4 separate regions of the Homo sapiens genome follow, and regions 1, 2 and 3 are each reported to be linked to region 4. The links are microRNA targets in miRTarBase. Many come from high-throughput screens and were not tested one by one. Region 4 holds a microRNA gene; each other region holds the end of a gene's coding sequence.

Region 1 (4,414 bases), not on the chromosome of region 4:
CGGCGAAAAGAGGCAAGAGAGGAGAAGAAAGAGAAACCAGGGGGGCGAGGCGCCGTCCAATGACAAAGCCCAGGGGTGGGCGCCGGCCGCCATCTTGTACCGGGCAGCAGGATATTCGCCCGCGTCCTCCGCCCTCGGAGGGGGAGGGGCGGCGGCGGAGGCGAGAAAAGTAGCGAGAGACGCCAGCAGCAGCCGCCGCCGCGGAGCCAACGCGGACTGGGACGGCGGCGGCAGTAGTGGGACCCGGCGAGCGTGAGTGGCCCGGAGCGGCCTTCGATGCGGCGCAGTATGAAGAGGCGGCGGCGCCGGCGCCCGGTCGCCCCGGCCACGGCCGCCCGGGGCGGCGACTTTAGGGCAGAAGACGGGGCTGGGTTGGAGGCGCGGGAGGAGAAGGTGGTGTACTCGCGGTCGCAACTGTCGCTGGCTGACAGCACCAAGGCGCTGGGCGACGCCTTCAAGCTCTTCATGCCCCGCAGCACGGAGTTCATGAGCTCGGACGCGGAGCTCTGGAGCTTCCTCTGCAGCCTCAAGCACCAGTTCTCCCCGCACATCCTGCGCAGCAAGGACGTCTACGGCTACTCCTCCTGCCGGGCCCTGGTACCCGACCCCCCGGGGCCCCCTACAGCCCGCGGCCAGGCGCGCCGGCCGGTTCCGCGCGCAGCGGCCAGGAGGAGGCGCCGCGGAGCCCGGGCGGCCGCTGCCCGCAGGAGGAAGCCCCGGCCGCCACCCCCACCGCCGCCGCCCCCCGAGGAGAGCTGCCCGGCCAAGCCCGTGGCCCCCGGGCCCTGCTTCGGGGGCCGCACCTTGGAGGAGATCTGGAGGGCGGCCACCCCGACGCTGACCACCTTCCCCACCATCCGCGTCGGCAGCGACGTGTGGGGCGAGCGCAGCCTGGCGGCAGCGCGGCGCAGGGCGCGCCAGGTCCTGCGAGTGAACCTGGAACCCATGGTGAGGCTCCGCCGCTTCCCGGTGCCCCGGGCATGAGGTGCGGCCTCCAGGGCGCCTCCTGCCGGCCCCGACCTTGGGACAGGCCTTCCGCCCGGAGGAATGAACAAGTGTCAGTCGAGTGTTTACAGATCCGGCCAGGACCCCGGCCCCCAATGCACTTTACGCGCGAAGAAGTTGCCGGATGGTTGTCCCTGTCCCGGGCCGCGGCGCGGTCGTCTTGGACGCTGGGGCAGGTGTGCCCTCTGCTGCCTCCCGTACCCGGCCTGCGGAGGGAGGGGACAGCTGGACCCGCAGGGGAGGTCCCTTTCTTCCTGACCACCGATTGAGACGTCTCCAGGACCTTAGGGGCAGATCCGTTTTCTCACTGTTGGACTCTACCTCACTGGTCTGGAAGTCCTCCGAAGACATTATTTTTCCAAAGGAATTTGGTTTCGTGCTTGTGTAATAAAGCCAGAATTTACTTGTTCTTTATCTCCCCCTTTTTCTATTTCACTGTCACCCCTCTTTGTGGACAGAAGTTCGAACATGTGGTGTTGCACTAGTTTGTGCTCAGGGTATTCTGAAGCCCACTCGTTTCCTAATTTTTACTGGATTCCAAAGCTTTGATCGAGGATATTTTTTAAGAGGTTCAAGCTTGTGACTGTTAGTAGTGCAAGGATTTGTATGGGCTCAGTGATTACAAACAAAGACATGCAAAATACAACTGTTTAAACATTTTCAAGGTATTTTTAAAGGTTTTGTATTGAAACAATGTTTATATTTACTGAGCTCCTAAAAATGGTAGAATACACATGAAAACTTTTGTTTAGGAAAAGTTAACTTGTTAAATTCTTTTGAATTGAATAAAAAAATGCATTGAAACCATATGGTGTGTGATTAAAAAAAATGAATAAATTGTGAAGAACTGGTTTTGGTTACAGGAGTCACTGGAATCCGACTGGAGATGATTTGGCCCCCTGTCCTGGTCTAACATACAAATCTAGGAATATTATGCGTTAAAGTATTTTAAAATACATTATCCTTGTAATGTATTTTACAAGGATAATGTATTTTAAAATGGGAGTTGCATAGGAGAGATGGATGTGTGTAAACATTATCACTAAAATGATAAACAGAATACCCATTAGAATTCTTAGAACTATTAATGATCAAGAGGGGTGGAGGCATTTCTTGGTATCAAATAACTGGTTAAGGTTACTTTGGGCGAAATCTATTTCCTTTTTGTTTTTGTTGTTGGATAACAAGAAATGTCTAGACTAATATTCATCAGTTTTACAAACATAATGAAAATTAGTTGATTTTTAGTTGATTTTTTTGTCCCAACATTTTTTTTAACCTTTTTGCCACTCATTATATGTTTGCAGTTCTAGGTCTTTGACAGCTGAAGACCACAGGAATCAAACAGGCGAGACACACAGAATACTGACCCTTCTTTACGCTTTTATAGTGTTTATACCATATGGCCCAGTGTGGAATTCTTGATTATCCAAGTGCCTTTGGTCATTTGTGGCAGGAAAACTTAATAGTTTTTAGCCAGCAGTGCCACAGCCAGCTTTTACTGCAATACCTAAAGGGTCAAGTAGTGTTTTTGTACCACTATTATTTCAAATTTAAGTATTCTGCCATGAAACGATCCATACTGGGCTGGAACTTGACATGTGAAATCTTTAATACTAAAGCTTATCTCTGCTTGGCAGCTTTTTAGGAGAATAATGAGAGTTACAATTTTGACTCTTGCGTTCCTAGAATTCAAATGGCATAGCTTTCTGAAATGAGTATTTCAAGTTTAGTAGTCCGTATAGGAGTGTTGTGACTTCAATTTCAGTGTTCTTGTTAAAAGAAATAATATGATATATATATACACACATATATATAACTTGATGCCAGTTTTCTAGTAAGCCTCAGTCTTTTATTCACTACTCAATGATAATGCATTGTACAAACACTGTCACATGAGTAAATAAAAATGAATAATTCCTTAGAAGATGGAGAGTGTTAAATTATATTTGTGATAGGAAGCTTAGACATATCTTTTGGTTATTAGCTTCCATTGCCAATTGTATTTCAGATGCATAGGGTTTTCTTCCCAAAAATATATTGTTAACTTTTATAGCTAACTAGCACCTGGAAAAAATGTATTTGTACAACTTTACTATTGTATATAGTTTTATAATAATGAAAAATAAACCCAATGGCCATATTAGAATGCAATTTCGACATACAGCTTATCTAGATAGTTTTCCAGAGGATTTTGAAATTTGGCTTAACTGGGAGGATAACTGCTCAGCACACCACTGAAACATAACCACTGACACCATTCATTTATTTTAACTGAGATTCTTGACATTTTTCTCTCCTATGCCTTGTTACTTTAGCATACTTGAACTCACATAAATGCTTCTTTGGATTACATGGGCTATCTGATTCCATTTTGGATCTGATTGTCCATCTTGAATTCAATATGGTATTCATCTGGACTATTCAAAAATTATGCCATTTCTAGTCTGTGAAATAAGATGTAAAAAATCTTTATTTTTGCCCTTTGGTAAAAACCTATGTGACAACTTTTAAAATGTGAAGCAACATCTAATATAGTTGACTGGTATACTAATAGGAAAGTGAAAGTATTTCATGGGTACTTTGTCACAGAATGTGAAAAGAAACTTGGCATAGTGGCCTTTATAATGAGGCATCCACTTACTCCTCTGAAGTGAAGTCTGTAGCTTAGCTTGTGTATAGTTTTTGAAAGAAATCTCATGATCTTCGTTCATTCTCTTGCCTTCTCTTTTATCTCATATGGCACAAGTAGAGGGGGAAGCCAGGAGGAAATTCATCACCTCGCTATGCTTTTATTTGATTTTTAATTCCTGAGTGCCTAAATGTGGTGACCGGCACCTCACATAACTTTTTGAGATTCTTGATGTCATTTTTATCCTTCCTGTCAACCAGCAATGTATTTTTATGTTACTAAAACCAGTAACGTCATAATTGTTGAGGGCAAGCTTCATTGTTGATAGTGCAAAGTGTCGCTGTTGTGATGTGTGTTTATTTTATTCAAGTTTGAATATTGACAAGTGTAACTTAAGCTGGTGACTGACACCTATTGATCTGCTGTGTGCAAATGATAGTACTATTTTTTAGAAAACTCTTAAGTAAATTTTAAAAATATTTGAATACAAAATATCTGAGCAATTTTGAACTCAAAAGTTTTTCATTGTTTTAAGGATTGCCACAGGACTCTTTAATGGTTTTTAATGGACATACATGCCTAATATTTATTGGTGTGTTTAAAATATTTTTTGATAGAGTGTTATGTCTTAAGCGCATTAGAAAACAATTGTTTGTAATGGAATCAAAGTGTTTCCCTGGACAGTTTGATGTGCTTATGGTTGAGATTTATAATCTGCTTGTACTTTGCTTTTTAACTTATTAACTGTAAATAAATTTTAGAGAATACATAGTGTCT
Region 2 (4,000 bases), not on the chromosome of region 4:
AGGACTGGGAAGGTTCTGGGACTCTCTCCCTCACCCCGGACTCCTCCCCAGAGCCTGGGGCTCAGCAACTCTCATGACCGGGCACTGGTGAAGCGCAAGTTGAAGGAGATGGCAGCAGCTGCCGAGAAGGAGCGCAAGGCCCAGGAGAAGGCTGCGCGGCAGCGGGAGAAGCTCCGGCGCCGAGAGCAGGAGGCCAAGAAGAGCTAGGGGAGGGTGCACAGGCGCTGGCACCCGGCAGGGGCAGCCACTGGCTCCGCGGGCACAGGCCTCACCAGGGAGGCTGGACCTGGGCGCTGCACTTGGGCTAGCCTGGTCCCACGCTCTCAGGGGGGACATGCTCTCTCTTACCCTGTCACTTGGTCTAGACCCAGAGACCCCAGAAAGGGAGACCCCAGGGAGAGGGCCTAGTAATAAATCCTATTTTGAGGACTTGTTTGGCACAGAGTTCCTGGGGGAGGAGCAGATGAAGGGGAGAGGGCAGAGAGGCCAGGGCTGAGGCAAGTCTGGGAGGCTGGGTCAGGCTGTCCCATTGCCCTCAGGCCATCGTGGGGCTGGGGTGGAGGGGAGCTAGGAGGCCTGCCTGCCTGCTTGCCTGCCAGAGGCCCTGAGGCCGGGCCCCAGGGCTCAGAGCTGGGCTGGGCATTTCAGCAGGAGCCCATGTGGGAGCGGCTCCTCTCCACTCTTCCAGGGGGCTGTGTGGTGGGAGAGCTCTGTCCTGCTCCCCCAAGAGGCCAGTGGGCGCTGCAGCAAGTCGCACTCAGGGTAGACTCCCAGCCAAACTCCTCAACAGGAGCGCAGAGAAAGCAGCCTGGGGCGAGTGCAGTCTTTGCCAGGACTCAAGAGGGGAGGATGAACATCCCCTTCTCCCTCTCCCCTCCTCTGTCCTGTGGGTCCCAGGGGGCGAGATGACACCACACAGGTCTGCCTCTCAGGGCCCATTCAAGACCTGGTCTTTGACCCATTCTCCAAGCCAGGACTCCCTTCACTTCCTGCTGCTTCCTCAGAGGGCACCTAAGTCCTCTTTGGGAGCTGAGCAAACAGGAACTGATAGGGACAGAGGACACCACTTCCACCAGCCAAGGCCTAGGAGCTGCTGACCTGGTCAGCCCTCACCCCAGCCAGGCAGAGAGGCAAAACCTGGGGGTCCCCGGCAGCTACGAGATTGGAAAGGTTCATCAGCCCTCCCCCATCTGCCCCAGGCATTGTCAGGGAATCAGTGGGCTCAGAACTGGCAGGCGGTGCAAGCTCTGCTTCCCTGGGCCACACTGAGGGCTGGGGCCAGCTCCCTGGATGGGGGTGGAGTTTACCAGCAGCCTGGGGACAGCATGTGTCCTTTTTAGGAAATGTCCTTGGAGGAAGTGTTCATGTGTGGCGCTGGTCAGCAGCTAGTCCCGCTTCCAGGACACTGGTCAGAGTTACCGATGAGGCCTGGGGGCTCCCGCTTGGAAACCCCTCCAGCTCCTCCCATCTGCCCAGACAGAGCGGCAGATGGCACCAATGCATGCTGGCTCCCTCATTCCTGCCCAGGGGCTGTGGCTTACGGCCAGCACCCTGTACCTGGGACTCAGCCCTTATCCCCCCTCTGCTATCTGTGCTGGGAGAGGGGCTTCGGAGGGAAACAGATATGAGGACACTGGCACCATCTGGGCCTGGTGGCAGGGCCATGGGAGGTTGGAAGGCACCCACATCCTTAAAGCCATCAGTAGCTATAGTGGGTGCCCACCTGCATGTGAAGGGGAGGCAGTTCTCAATTTATTTCAATAAATCCTTATGATGTGCCAGTGACCAGAATTTCTGTCTGCTCCAGTTGTTGGGTTGGCCGGACTCTGCTGGGCCCTGAGTATGGTGGGACAACAGGTCTGTCACCAGGTGCTGGGCCATCCGGCGTTCTGAACAGATGGCTTTGCCCAGTGTTTTACTCACAGTCCTGAGCTGGGCCGGACGTCCCCGGTGCGTCATGTGGTGGTCACAGGGCACCGCAGTGTGCGTGTGTACGTGCGCACGTGTGGGTCCCCTCCCCCAGGGATGCAGCCAGGCCAGTCTCATTCAGTCTCCTCTTTACTGTGGGTGTGGGTGTCACTGTCACTGCCACAGCCACTGGGAGGGACACACAGCTTTAACCCCTGTGTGCTTAGGGGAAGGGTGGGGGCATTCAGGGTTATAAAACTAACTATATACACAGAAGGTCCTAGGGAGAAAGCCACCCTGAGCACACATGTCTGGGCACAGTGGGGGCTGGGGGCTGGAGCTCAGGCAGGATGGACTAGGCTTGTGGAGGAGCGGGTGGGCATGAGCATGTGAGGACATGCTGGGAGGGCTCAGGAGGTGGCACAGACATTGCCAAGGCCACTGCAGGGCCTCGAGCAGCTTGGCTGGATGGCAAGCTCTCGGTCTAACAAGGTTCTTCCACTTTAGAGTTGGGCCCTGTGAGAGCCACCCCCTCCGCCACCGACCTTCAAGCCCTGAGCGGAGGGAGAGGCTGCAGGACCAGCCTCATTCCCCACTCACGGGTGTAACTCCTTTCCCCACTCAGTCCCCAGGTCTGGAGGGCACCCACCCTCTTCCTAACACTTCAGCAGGCCAAGGCCAGGGTGCCTTTGTGGGCTGGGGGAATAAGGCAACGGGACATCCACTTGGAAGGCCTGTGCTGTGGAGGGTGCTGAGGGGGACCCAGTACCCCTGGCAGAAAAGTGACAGCCCTGGTCTCAGAGAGGAGGACTGCCATGGGAAAATGTCTCTGGGACACCCCATCAGGGTGGAGACATCCCTAACCCTCAGGCATCGCCCACAGAGATAGGGAGGCCACCGAGGGGTCTCCACAGAGATGGACTGGCACTTAGGGACCATCACAGACCTATCACCGCAGTGACTTCCATAGAGACAGAACCTGGTCATCAGGGAGAACCCACCCCCTGCTCCCCCAGGAGGATGGTGAGGGGCACCACGGTGGGGGGACCCAGAGGCGGCAGTCCGTCCTCTCAGGTGCAGATGCACGGCGGCCCTTAGCTGACGCGGTACGTGGACGTGTTCTTGGGCTCCGTGCTGGGCACACACCAGTCGCCGGCCTCCTGGATGGTCTGGTAGTGGCGCCAGGCTGACTTGTTGTAGACAGGCAGGCGCTCCACCGAGTCCGTGGACAGGGCCTGGGGAGTGTCAGGGTCAGCCCCTCCCACCTCCCTGTGCCTTGTCCACTCCTCAGCAGACCACCCCACCCCAGCTCAGCGGCAGCCCAGCTGCCAGACACGGGGGCCTGGAAAGACCACAAAAGGGTGGTCCCTCCTGTGTCCCGCTCCTGCCCATTCAAGCAAGCAGCTCCCTCTAAGGGAGGGAGAGGGAGGGGGAGGAGGCTGGGCTGTGTGACCCTGAGCAAGTCACGGACTCCGGGCCTCAGTCTTCTCCTCTGAACTGAATGGCAAGACCTAGGGTGTCCCCTTCCTTCTGGGTCTAACAAGTCAAGGGTTCCCAGCACAGGGGTCTTAATCATAGACCACAGACTCCCCTAAATTCCCTGACAAGCAGTGCGTGTCTGGGGGTTGAGGGTTCTTCAGGTTGAGGAACTGTAGCTTTGCTTGGATTCTCAGAGTCTGGGGCCAGGGAAGGACTGGGGGGATGGAAAGGAAAGCTCGCAGCTGGCCAAGGCTGCCCAGGTCCTATCAGCAAAGCTCTTCTCCAGCTGGGCTCTGCGGGAAGGGCCCTCACCTTGAGATAGATGACAGCATCGGTCCCAAAGCCTTCCATGGAGAAGAGCTGCAGGTCTCCCTGGAAGTACTTGGCGTAGAGGCGGGAAATGGGGAGCCCATAACCAAAGCCAGCCTGCAGCGGGGCAGGAAGGCAGTGAGGATGAGGAGGCTGGCAGGGGCCTCCTGGAGCTGCAGGGACTGATGCAGGGAGGGAAGGGTGTGGAGCTGGGGTCACATGGCAGGGGTCCCAGAGCTGGGAGGGGACATGTGGGAGGGGACACTGAGGTAAGAAGTGTGTGTGGGGTGAATGGGGCAATCAT
Region 3 (4,414 bases), not on the chromosome of region 4:
AGGTGGAACCCAGGACCACCCAGCTAGGGAGGGAGAGGGACCCAGCTCTCTCCAAAGCCAAAGCCTACCCTTCCTGCCACACCAGAGTATGCTTATGAAAGATCAGGCCTCCAAAATGCCCCGGCTGCATTGTAACATGAATTACAAGACACTCTGTCACTGAGCCTCACCCTCTGCCTGGGACACGGGGTGAAGAGCTGACCTCTGTCCTCAAGGAGCTCCCAGGTGAGCTGGGCCCCAACCCCTGGGCAGAGGCAGCATGTCAGCAATGTCCGAAAGAACACTGCCCTGGAGAAGAGCAGTGTGGGGCTGGGGGTGGGGAGAGGTGTTCCAGGCAGGAGACAGCTCCCCTTTGGAGTCTTAGCGGCCCTGGGACTTTGTCAGTCTTGATTTTAAATGACTTTGGCTAGTGTTTTCTACTTTTGCAAAAAATTACCCACACCTGGGCCCCCTCTACAAACTGATCACATTGGAATCTCTGGGGGTGGGGCCTGGGCACCTGCATAGGTAATACTAGGGGCTGAGCCACTTCGACTCTGGTCCTGGCATCCAAATGCTGAGGCTGTCCTGGGGCCCACCTTGCCCAGGATCTCCTGATGCCCTCTATTGTCAGGCACTGGCCTGCGACAAGCCTGGGAGTCTGGACTCTGCCTGCACCCTATCCCAGGCCCAGCCACTGACCCGTCTTTCCCATTTCCTTCAGCTAATGGAAGCCCTGAAGGAGCAGGAGGAGATCAACTTCCGGCTGAGGCAGTACATGGACAAGATTATCCTCGCCATCCTGGACCACAATCCCTCCATCCTCGAGATCAAACACTAAGGCACGGGGCTGGCTGCAGAGCAGCCTTAGGACCCTGGGACCAAGGGCAGACCCTGCCCAAGGATGCAGGCCTAAGCCGGGCCTCACACTCACACTGTAAATGTCTCTCTGGCCACCATGCGTTACGTGTACCCGTGTATATGTGGGGAGGCTGTGCACACGAGCGAGGGGTGAGTGGCCGTGGCTGTGGGCAGCATCCACACGGTTAGCCGTGCATGCACTTTGTGGCCCCTTTGCAAGGGGCAGAGGGTACTGGAAGTGGGAGGAGGCAAGGTCTGCTATCAGGAGTTACTGTAAAAACAAGAACTGGAAGCTCGTGTTTCCGGTACTGGGTAAAATGATTCTACCTCTGGGGATAAGGATTCACATTCGCTCTAGTACGATGGGCTCTTTCACCCCACTCCTAGTCCCCTTGGGAGTGGGAGCAAAATTGTGATCTTTCCTAGGAGTTTGAATGCCCCATATTTGTGTCCTCGCCAGCTCTTTGGCCACCTTTCAAGCCCCAGTGTTCAAGCTCAGAGAGGATGAAGGGGCATCTGGAGGGTCCATGAGATGGGGCCCTCACCAAATGCCTTGGCCACCGGCCAGCAGCCCTCTGTGATGTGTGTGCAGAGTGAACAGAGGACTCAGGTTTCATAGCAGCTAGTGCGGGGCATCCTCATCCTGTACCTATAGAGTTCGTGCACTCCCCCATCCATGCTACCTACCTCCCCGTTTCTGTTTCAGTTTTAAGACAATGAAGCAGCATTCACTGCGTCATTGTAACATGAAGGGATAAAAATGAAGGAGAAGGAGGGTTTGGGATGGGTGTCTAAGGCAGGAGTTGACATCGGGCAACCAAAGAAATGAGTTTTGGGGAGGAACACAACTCCCATCCCAGTCAGTTTCCTTCCCATGGCTGCATCTTAAGATGGATGCACGGAGAAACCGTCTGCCTGGCTCCCTGTCTTCATTCTCCACGCAGCCTGGTGATGGCAGGCCTGGGTTTGGATTTCAGAATCCTAGCTCCGGGCTCCACTCGTGTGGCAGCAAGACTGCTTCGTTCCAGCGTTTAGAAACACACCTGTATTTGATTCTCAGCCAGGGGAGCACTCGCTGCACTGGTGGGAGGCGGTTGGGAAAGTTGCAGGAAAACCTTAGTCTTCCATCCTTCTGACCCATGGTGGAAATTCACACCATGGATTTTTAATGGATCTTTGTTCTAGGCAGCTGGGAATAGACATGGTACTTACCTTAGAGTTTTCCAATTTATCTCAATTTTATATGGCTTGTGATTCATTTTCTTAATCCAAATATATATAAACGTGTGTGGTCTTATTCTTCCCCCTGCAGTTTCTTGCTTTCTTCAGCACATCTTATAGTATGAGAAGGAAGGTTTGGGCATGTTGGGAAGGGCGGTGGAGGGGGAGTTGCAGAAAGAGAGGGCAGTGAGGGTGAGGAGAGGGGATCTGGGGACTTGGGTGTGACACCTGCTTGACAGAGGCAGGGCTGTGGCCAGGACCAACCTTCAATTCCATTCCAATCAGCCTTTGCATTTGTTGGATCTCGTGGCTTCTTTTTAATCTTTTGTTGGGGATTAGTTTCATGCTGCACATAATGGGGTTGCACTGGTCTGACCCAGGACTTTGGAGCCACCCACACTGGGAAGACTAGGCTAGGCAGTCGGTCTTCTAGGAGTTTCTCAGCCCCTTAGGACGCGGGTCTCCTTGGGCTCCCCCAAGGGTTCTGCGAAGAGGCAGTGGAAGAAGGCATGAGGAGAGGGTCTCTTGAGAATTTGCCAATAGGAAGGAGTGGCCACGGCTGAAAGGAACAAGACAGATCCTGACATAGCTTTGGCCTGGGTGTTAGGTCAGAAGGAGTACTGGTGCGTGGGGGCCTTACCCCAGGGTTGAGTATTTTATCTGTAAAATGTTATCTGCCCTTTGGCTGCATTGGAATTTCAGAGAAGGCTGCAGAGGCCTGGGTTACACAGCCTGAGTCACAACGTGGGAAGGAATCTCTGCCACGGGAAAGGTGGGCGGAAGCAGCTGGCAGCCTGGGGCGTGCTTCAGGCTCCTCCCTCTAAGGGGCGCCATGGGAACAGGCTCCGGAGGGAGCCGGCGTCTGAAAGGCCCCCGGGACCTGCTGCAGTGCCAGAGGGGCCTCTGGAGCAGGCCTGGCTTTTAAATGGGGGGCTGAATTCCAGCTCACACACACCTCAAGTCCAACCTTACTTTCTTCAGCCAGAATACATTTCTTGTAAAACCTGGCTTGTTGCTTGGCTTTTAAAGATGGTGTATGTTTGTAAAAATATTCTTCTGGGCTCAAAAGCTAGCTTGAGGGGGCAGATGCCCCAGGTGTCCCAGCTCCACAGCCCCTGGCAGATCCCAGACCCCTTGGTGGCAGGTCCCAGAGCCTAGGTGGTAGGAGCTTGATCTTTGTTTCTGCCCTTACCCCTCAGTAGTGGGGCTGCGAGGTAGTAGACAGGATGCCCAGTTAAGTTTGAATTTCAGATAGAAAATAATTTTAGAATAAATATGTTCTATCTAATACATGGGACAGATGTTATTTTTAGAGATAGGATCTTGCTCTGTTGCCCAGGCTGGAGTGTAGTGGTATGATCATAGCTCACCACAACCTTGAACTCCCAGGCTCAAGCGATCCTCCCGCCTTAACTGCCTGAGTAGCTGGGACTACAGGCATGCACCACCACGCCCAGCTAATTTTTCTTATTTTTTGTAGAGACAGGGTCTCACTGTGTTGCCTCACTCGAGCTGCTGACCTCAAGTGATCCTCCCACCTCAGCCTGCCAAAGCACTGGGATTACAGGCATGAGCCACCATGCCTGGCCAGGACATATTTGAAATGGGGAGATTTTAAAAATTCTGATGATTAGACTGAATCCTCAGACGTTCTGGTTTGATTGTTGTGGGTGTAGCCCAGGCATGGGATTTTTTAAAGAGCTGCTCAGGTAATTCCAATTTAATTGCGTGTCCTACTTGGGTTTTTTGTTTGTTTTTATTGTTTTTGCTAAACCTGGCAACCCTACCGAGTAGGGATTAGCAGTAACTTATCTGAAATTTAGAGGTGTTTTGGGGGTGGGGCGAGGGTTTCTGTAGTAGACTCAGATTTTACATGGCCCTGAGCTGCCCTTGCGTTCAGTTGGAAGCCACGCAAAATGAACTGAACCAGGAGTGAGCTTCGTGTACATTATCTATTAGAAAATGAAGTACCTTCTGGTTCAGCTAGTCCCTGTGCGTTGAGAGGCTTTAAGAAACTTCTAGTAAAAATGTTTTTTTCTTTTAGCTTTGAATTGGCCAGAGTTTATCCTAGATTATTTTATTTTAAATTGGTAGAATTCTTTGCGAACTGTCACAGAGAAATTCCTTTTCATGACTTTATTTCTGACCTATTAAAACATGAACAGGCCAGGCATGGTGGCTCACGCCTGTAATCCTAGCACTTGGGAGGCAGTGGCAGGCGGATCACTTGAGCTCAGGAGTCCTAAACCAGCCTGGGCAACATAGTGATACCTTGTCTCTACCAAAAGTTAAAAAAAAAAAAAAAAAAGCTCAAGAACCTGCACGAGGGCCTAAAACAGTGGGCTCAGCTTTG
Region 4 (4,414 bases):
TCAAGACCCTGGGGGAAATAACAAAGATACGGGGATATGGCCTGTATCCTCCCTTCAAAAACCTAATACTTACAACAGAGTCCCTCTCCCTTTCATACCTGCTCTCTAAACCCCCAACATACACCTTCTTTTTCCTGCGGCTCTCTTGAGCAGATCTTTTATTTCGAATCTTCCTCCGCACACGTTTCAGAATTTGTTCCTCTGTCTGAAAGGAAACAGGGAAAGGGATATCATTAGAGGAACTCTAGAAAAAGGAGTTGAAACGCAACTGAGATCAATCTCTTTCCAATACAGAAATCCCTTCTACAGCTTCCCTGACCAACAGGCATTCAGATTCTTTCTGAATGCCTCCACGGACCAGGTGTTAACCCTAACAAGCCAGACCATTTTAAACTATTAAAAAAAAAACTGGTCGGGCAGTATTCAGGCGACGTGGCTCATGCCTGTAATCCCAACACTTTGGGGAGCTAAGACAGGAGGACCGGTTGAGCCCAGGAGTTTGAGACCAGCCTGAGCAACATAGTGAGACCTTGTCTCTACTAAAAATAAAAAATTAGCCGGGTGTGGTGGCACATGCCTGTGGTCCCTGCTACTCAGGAGACTGAGGAAGGAGGATCACTTGAGCCTGAGAGGTTGAAGCTGTAGTGAGCCATGATCTCGCCACTATTCTCCAACCTGGGCAATAAAGCAAGAACCTGTCTTCAAACAAGCAAATAAAAACTTCCTTATCCTGAACCAACAGCTGCCTCCTTATAATTTCTATCCGTTGGACTTACCTAGTATCTCTGGGGCCAAATAGAATAAACCCTGTTTAGCTATTTTAAGGCACTTAACATTTCCTCAGAGCTTAAAGAAAAAAAAAAAGACAAAATTTTTAACTCATCTTCTCAGGATAGACTGCATCCTCTTAGTATCTGTCAAAGATGTGCTCTAGCCAGTATCAAGGAAAGCAAGAGAGTGACTTGTAGAGACAATAACTCTATTGCTACAGTTTCCAAATCCCATGAACTTTCTTAGTAGCCACATCACACTGCTGACTCATCTTGTACTTTGAAGAAATTAAAATTCTTCACTTTGGGAGGCCAAGGTGGGTAGATCACTTGAGCCCAGGAGTTCGAGACCAGCCTGGCAACAAGGCAAAACCCCATTTCTACTAAAAATACCAAAAAAAAAATTGCCGGGCAGGGTAGTGTGCACCTGTAGTCTCAGCTACTCGGGAGGCTGAGGTGGGAGAATCACCTAAGCCCAGAAAGTCAAGGCTGCAGTGAGCCATGATCACATCAGTGCACTCCAGCCTGGGCAACAGAGCAAGACCTTGTCAAAAAATATATATATATTCCTGTAACCTTTCTATTAATGAGCACTGATTTCATCATAGTACCCCAGTACTCTGCTTGTGAAGTTGCCACTCATTGCTTAAAACTGAAAACTAAGGATTTTACATTTATTCATGTACTGCTTAGTCCAACCCTGTTGAACTCTCTAAACAGTTCTACCATTCAGCAAGAGGTGGATTACTATGAAGCCAACGAAGTGTCAAGGCCCTTCACTTACACAGTCCTTTCCAAGGCCCAATACTAATGTTGCACTGATAATTTTGAGTTATTTTTTTAACAGAACACCAAAATTTGTATAAGCCCAACAAAAACGAGGATCTGCCCTTGCATCTGGCATATTGTGTACCTGCCTCAACTTCCTATTAGCAATAAATCTACTAAGTTTCTCACCTCAATCCTTTTTTAAAGTTATTGATATAAAGTTAACAGAATTTGCCTACTTGGGACTTTTAATCCCTTTTCAGCCTTTGTTCAACCAATGAGAGTCTTACCTTAGTGAGAGGAAGTGTCTCAGGCAGAATAAGCCCCTCCTTCTCCAATAGACTCTTCTCCTCATCTGTCAGTACTAGCCTAGCAATCTCCTAGGGTAACAAGAAAGTGGACGGCAGTTGCATGGGGATGTCAGAGAGGAATGGGGAATCCTGCCCCCACCTGGGGAATGTGAGAGTAATCTCCTGAAAATCAAGTCAAGTACCTGCTCTGCCAGCTCCTCCATATGCTGTGGAGTCATCTGGGTCCCCTCTTTTCTACAGCTCTCACTCTCTGCAAAAGGGAAAGTATGAATAGCCAGGCCCATGAACCCTGTCCTCCCCGCAAACTTATTTCAGACTCACCTAGATCCATAGAGACAGTTTCCCGTGGGAGGGAGTAGGTGTGGTCATGGTGGACAAGGCAGGGGTTGGAGGAGCTGAGAATGTTCAACGACGCTGGGGGACTCAGCAGGGAGCACAGCAAATCATCTACTTCCCAGTCGCTCGGTACCTGCGCAGGGTTCCAATGAACAGGCCTTGACCTTATCACCATCACCTGACTTCATGGACATCCCACGCTTTCCCCAGTCAGAACCCCAACCTACCTCAGAAAGCGGCAGCGCCCAGTCCAGTGGGGCCCTCACGGCCTCATCGGGTGCCGTCCCCAAATCTCCACTTTCCTCTAGCAGGAAGGCCAGCAGGTCTTGGTCACCAGCATCCAATTCCAGCTCCATTTGGGACAACTACGGAAAGGGTGGGCCACCGGGCCCCAACGTCCGAAGCCCAGACACGAGCCCCAGGCCAGCTGTAGGCCTCGGGCACCTATCCACTGTCCCTCTACGGCCGGGATTCCCCGCCGGCGGCTTTCCATAGCCCTCTCCGGACCCGCCTCCCAGGCTCAATTCTCCTCAGCCTCCAACGCAGCGAAAGTGACGCACCCCACCCCGTGGCACTGTGGGACTTGGAGTTCCCTCCAACTGAGAAGAGGCTTGGGTGCAGCGCCACGTCCCAGGGGCTATGCAAATGTAGGGGACGGCCCTGCTGCCGCCTCGCACCCCGAGGGCGGGGGTTCCGGGGCTCCGGCTCCGCCTTCTACCCCAAGCTAGAAAAAGGAAGAGTTCTAGCCTGAAAGGGAACTCGGGCGTCGTCCTGGCGTCCTCTCCGGATTGCGCCGCACCCTCGCTTCCTGCCAGGGAGGGGCTGCCGGGCTTTGGCGGCTCCCGAGCATCGAGAACGGGGCCAGAGCAGCTTCCTGCCTGCCCCCCGCGACCATAGAGCGCGGGCCCAGGGCGCCGCCCGCGGGTGGGGGACGTTCCCAGGACGGAAGTGGCCGAGAGAGTGTCGAAGGGAGGGCGAGGCCGGAGCCCGAGGGCGACCCGAGAAGCGGCGGGGCGGCGGGCCGGCGGGCGGGGCGCAGAGCCAGGCAGCGCAGGTAGGCCAGACCGGGCCGGGCGGGGGCCTTAGGGTGGGGCCGCGGGGCCTGGCCCCGGGGCGGGCGGGCCCTGCCTCTCTTGCGTGTCCGGTTCGGGTCCTATTAGTTGGAGAGGTCAGCGTCCAGCGCATCTCGGCTTGAGCTCGGCGTGAAGTAGGCCGTCTTGGGGAAGACAGGCCTTTCCTGGGAGCAGTCCTATGTCTGGGATAGGCTTTGGGGAGCGTGAGGAGTCGGGTGGCAGCGGGGCGCAGGGCGGGGACGGGCTTTGGTGTTAGCTGATAGCGGGCATGTGGGTAGGAAAGCTTTGGGTGAGTTGGGGATTAGGTGGGGTCCGTTTAGGAATCAAGGGTCGCTATAGGAGTTAAAAGCTGGGGTTAAAACTTAAGAGTTAGTGTGAGTCAGGTCCGTTTTAGATAGGTAAGGTTTAGATTACGGTCATTATCTTGTTTGCTGGGATGGCCATCATACGTCATAATTTGAGTTCAGGGTCAGGTTAAGGGTCAACAAACAACAGGAATCAGGTTAGAGCTTGTTTGAGGGATTAAAGAATGTTGGCATGGTCGGTGTTAAGGATAAACAGTGAAAGCGTGAGTTAGGAATCAAATTATAAATGAACTTTAGGCTTAGGGGTCAACATTTAGGGTTAACATCAGGGGATTTGGTGCTAAAGGCAAAACTTAGATCAGTTTCAGGGATCAGGGATTGGATATGAGTCTGTGCTAGGAAAGGGATGAATGTCCAAGCCGGTACTGGGAATCAGGAAACAAATTAGAGGTGGGGTTAATGTTAGGAATTTGGGGCAGCTTTAGGGGTTGTGGTTTGAGGCTAGCATAGTTGACCTTGAGCAGATAAAATTTAAGAGGTTGGCAGTAGGTAAATGCCCTTCTTTTGTAGGGAAATCCTTTATTCCTATGTAGTTACAGGGGCTTCTTTTTACCCAGAGAGATAAACTAATTTCAGGCTAGCGTTCTGGCTTTAGCTAGAATTGCAGGCATCTGGGATTCCAGCTTCTTTATTCCATTCTCTAAGCCCAAGGCCCTTGCTGTGGCCACCACAGTTAGGGGACAGAGATTCTGGACTGTGTTGTTTACAGACAACATAGGTGGGAAATAGGGACCCAGGATGTACAAGGCCTAGTCACAAGTTGGGGACTGCCTAGGGAAGAAGGAGCTGAT

What was found. The annotated mature microRNA hsa-miR-6853-3p reads UGUUCAUUGGAACCCUGCGCAG and lies in region 4 at 2,319-2,340, opposite strand. An mRNA with a match to its seed (bases 2 to 7 or 8) in the 3' UTR can be bound and repressed. Matches are read on the target gene's strand: a 7mer-m8 pairs with bases 2 to 8, a 7mer-A1 pairs with bases 2 to 7 and ends in A, and an 8mer does both.
Region 1: the mRNA of CCDC71L is a reported target of hsa-miR-6853-3p. Seed matches in the 3' UTR shown: 8mer at 1,047-1,054.
Region 2: miRTarBase lists SAMD14 as a target of hsa-miR-6853-3p. Seed matches in the 3' UTR shown: 7mer-A1 at 850-856.
Region 3: miRTarBase lists RAB11FIP4 as a target of hsa-miR-6853-3p. Seed matches in the 3' UTR shown: 7mer-m8 at 3,977-3,983 and 7mer-A1 at 4,219-4,225.

What each region holds. Positions count from the first base shown.
Region 1 is chr7:106,656,759-106,661,172 of GRCh38, reverse strand. It overlaps CCDC71L (coiled-coil domain containing 71 like), which reads left to right and starts at 15. Exons shown (of 1, transcript NM_175884.6): 1 at 15-4,414. The coding sequence starts at 277. The coding sequence ends at 984. RefSeq lists a silencer at 572-841 and an enhancer at 1,192-1,241.
Region 2 is chr17:50,109,100-50,113,099 of GRCh38, reverse strand. SAMD14 (sterile alpha motif domain containing 14) reads left to right here. Exons shown (of 10, transcript NM_001257359.2): 10 at 52-3,060. The coding sequence ends at 207. It overlaps PDK2 (pyruvate dehydrogenase kinase 2), which reads right to left. Exons shown (of 11, transcript NM_002611.5): 10 at 3,700-3,813; 11 at 948-3,143. The coding sequence ends at 3,003. Among named protein-coding and RNA genes, the nearest start is that of PDK2-AS1, 8.7 kb to the right of the region's middle. RefSeq lists enhancers at 1-617, 618-1,303.
Region 3 is chr17:31,530,913-31,535,326 of GRCh38, forward strand. It overlaps RAB11FIP4 (RAB11 family interacting protein 4), which reads left to right. Exons shown (of 15, transcript NM_032932.6): 15 at 704-4,414. The coding sequence ends at 820. It overlaps MIR4724 (microRNA 4724), which reads left to right and starts at 3,971; the gene lies at 3,971-4,059.
Region 4 is chr9:35,730,900-35,735,313 of GRCh38, reverse strand. MIR6853 (microRNA 6853) reads right to left here and starts at 2,392; the gene lies at 2,319-2,392. It overlaps TLN1 (talin 1), which reads left to right and starts at 3,119. Exons shown (of 57, transcript NM_006289.4): 1 at 3,119-3,239. It overlaps CREB3 (cAMP responsive element binding protein 3), which reads right to left and starts at 2,648. Exons shown (of 9, transcript NM_006368.5): 1 at 2,413-2,648; 2 at 2,171-2,318; 3 at 2,032-2,099; 4 at 1,829-1,918; 5 at 99-205; 6 at 1-8. The coding sequence starts at 2,541. RefSeq lists enhancers at 2,523-2,612, 2,663-2,712, 3,513-3,562 and silencers at 2,843-3,002, 3,043-3,332.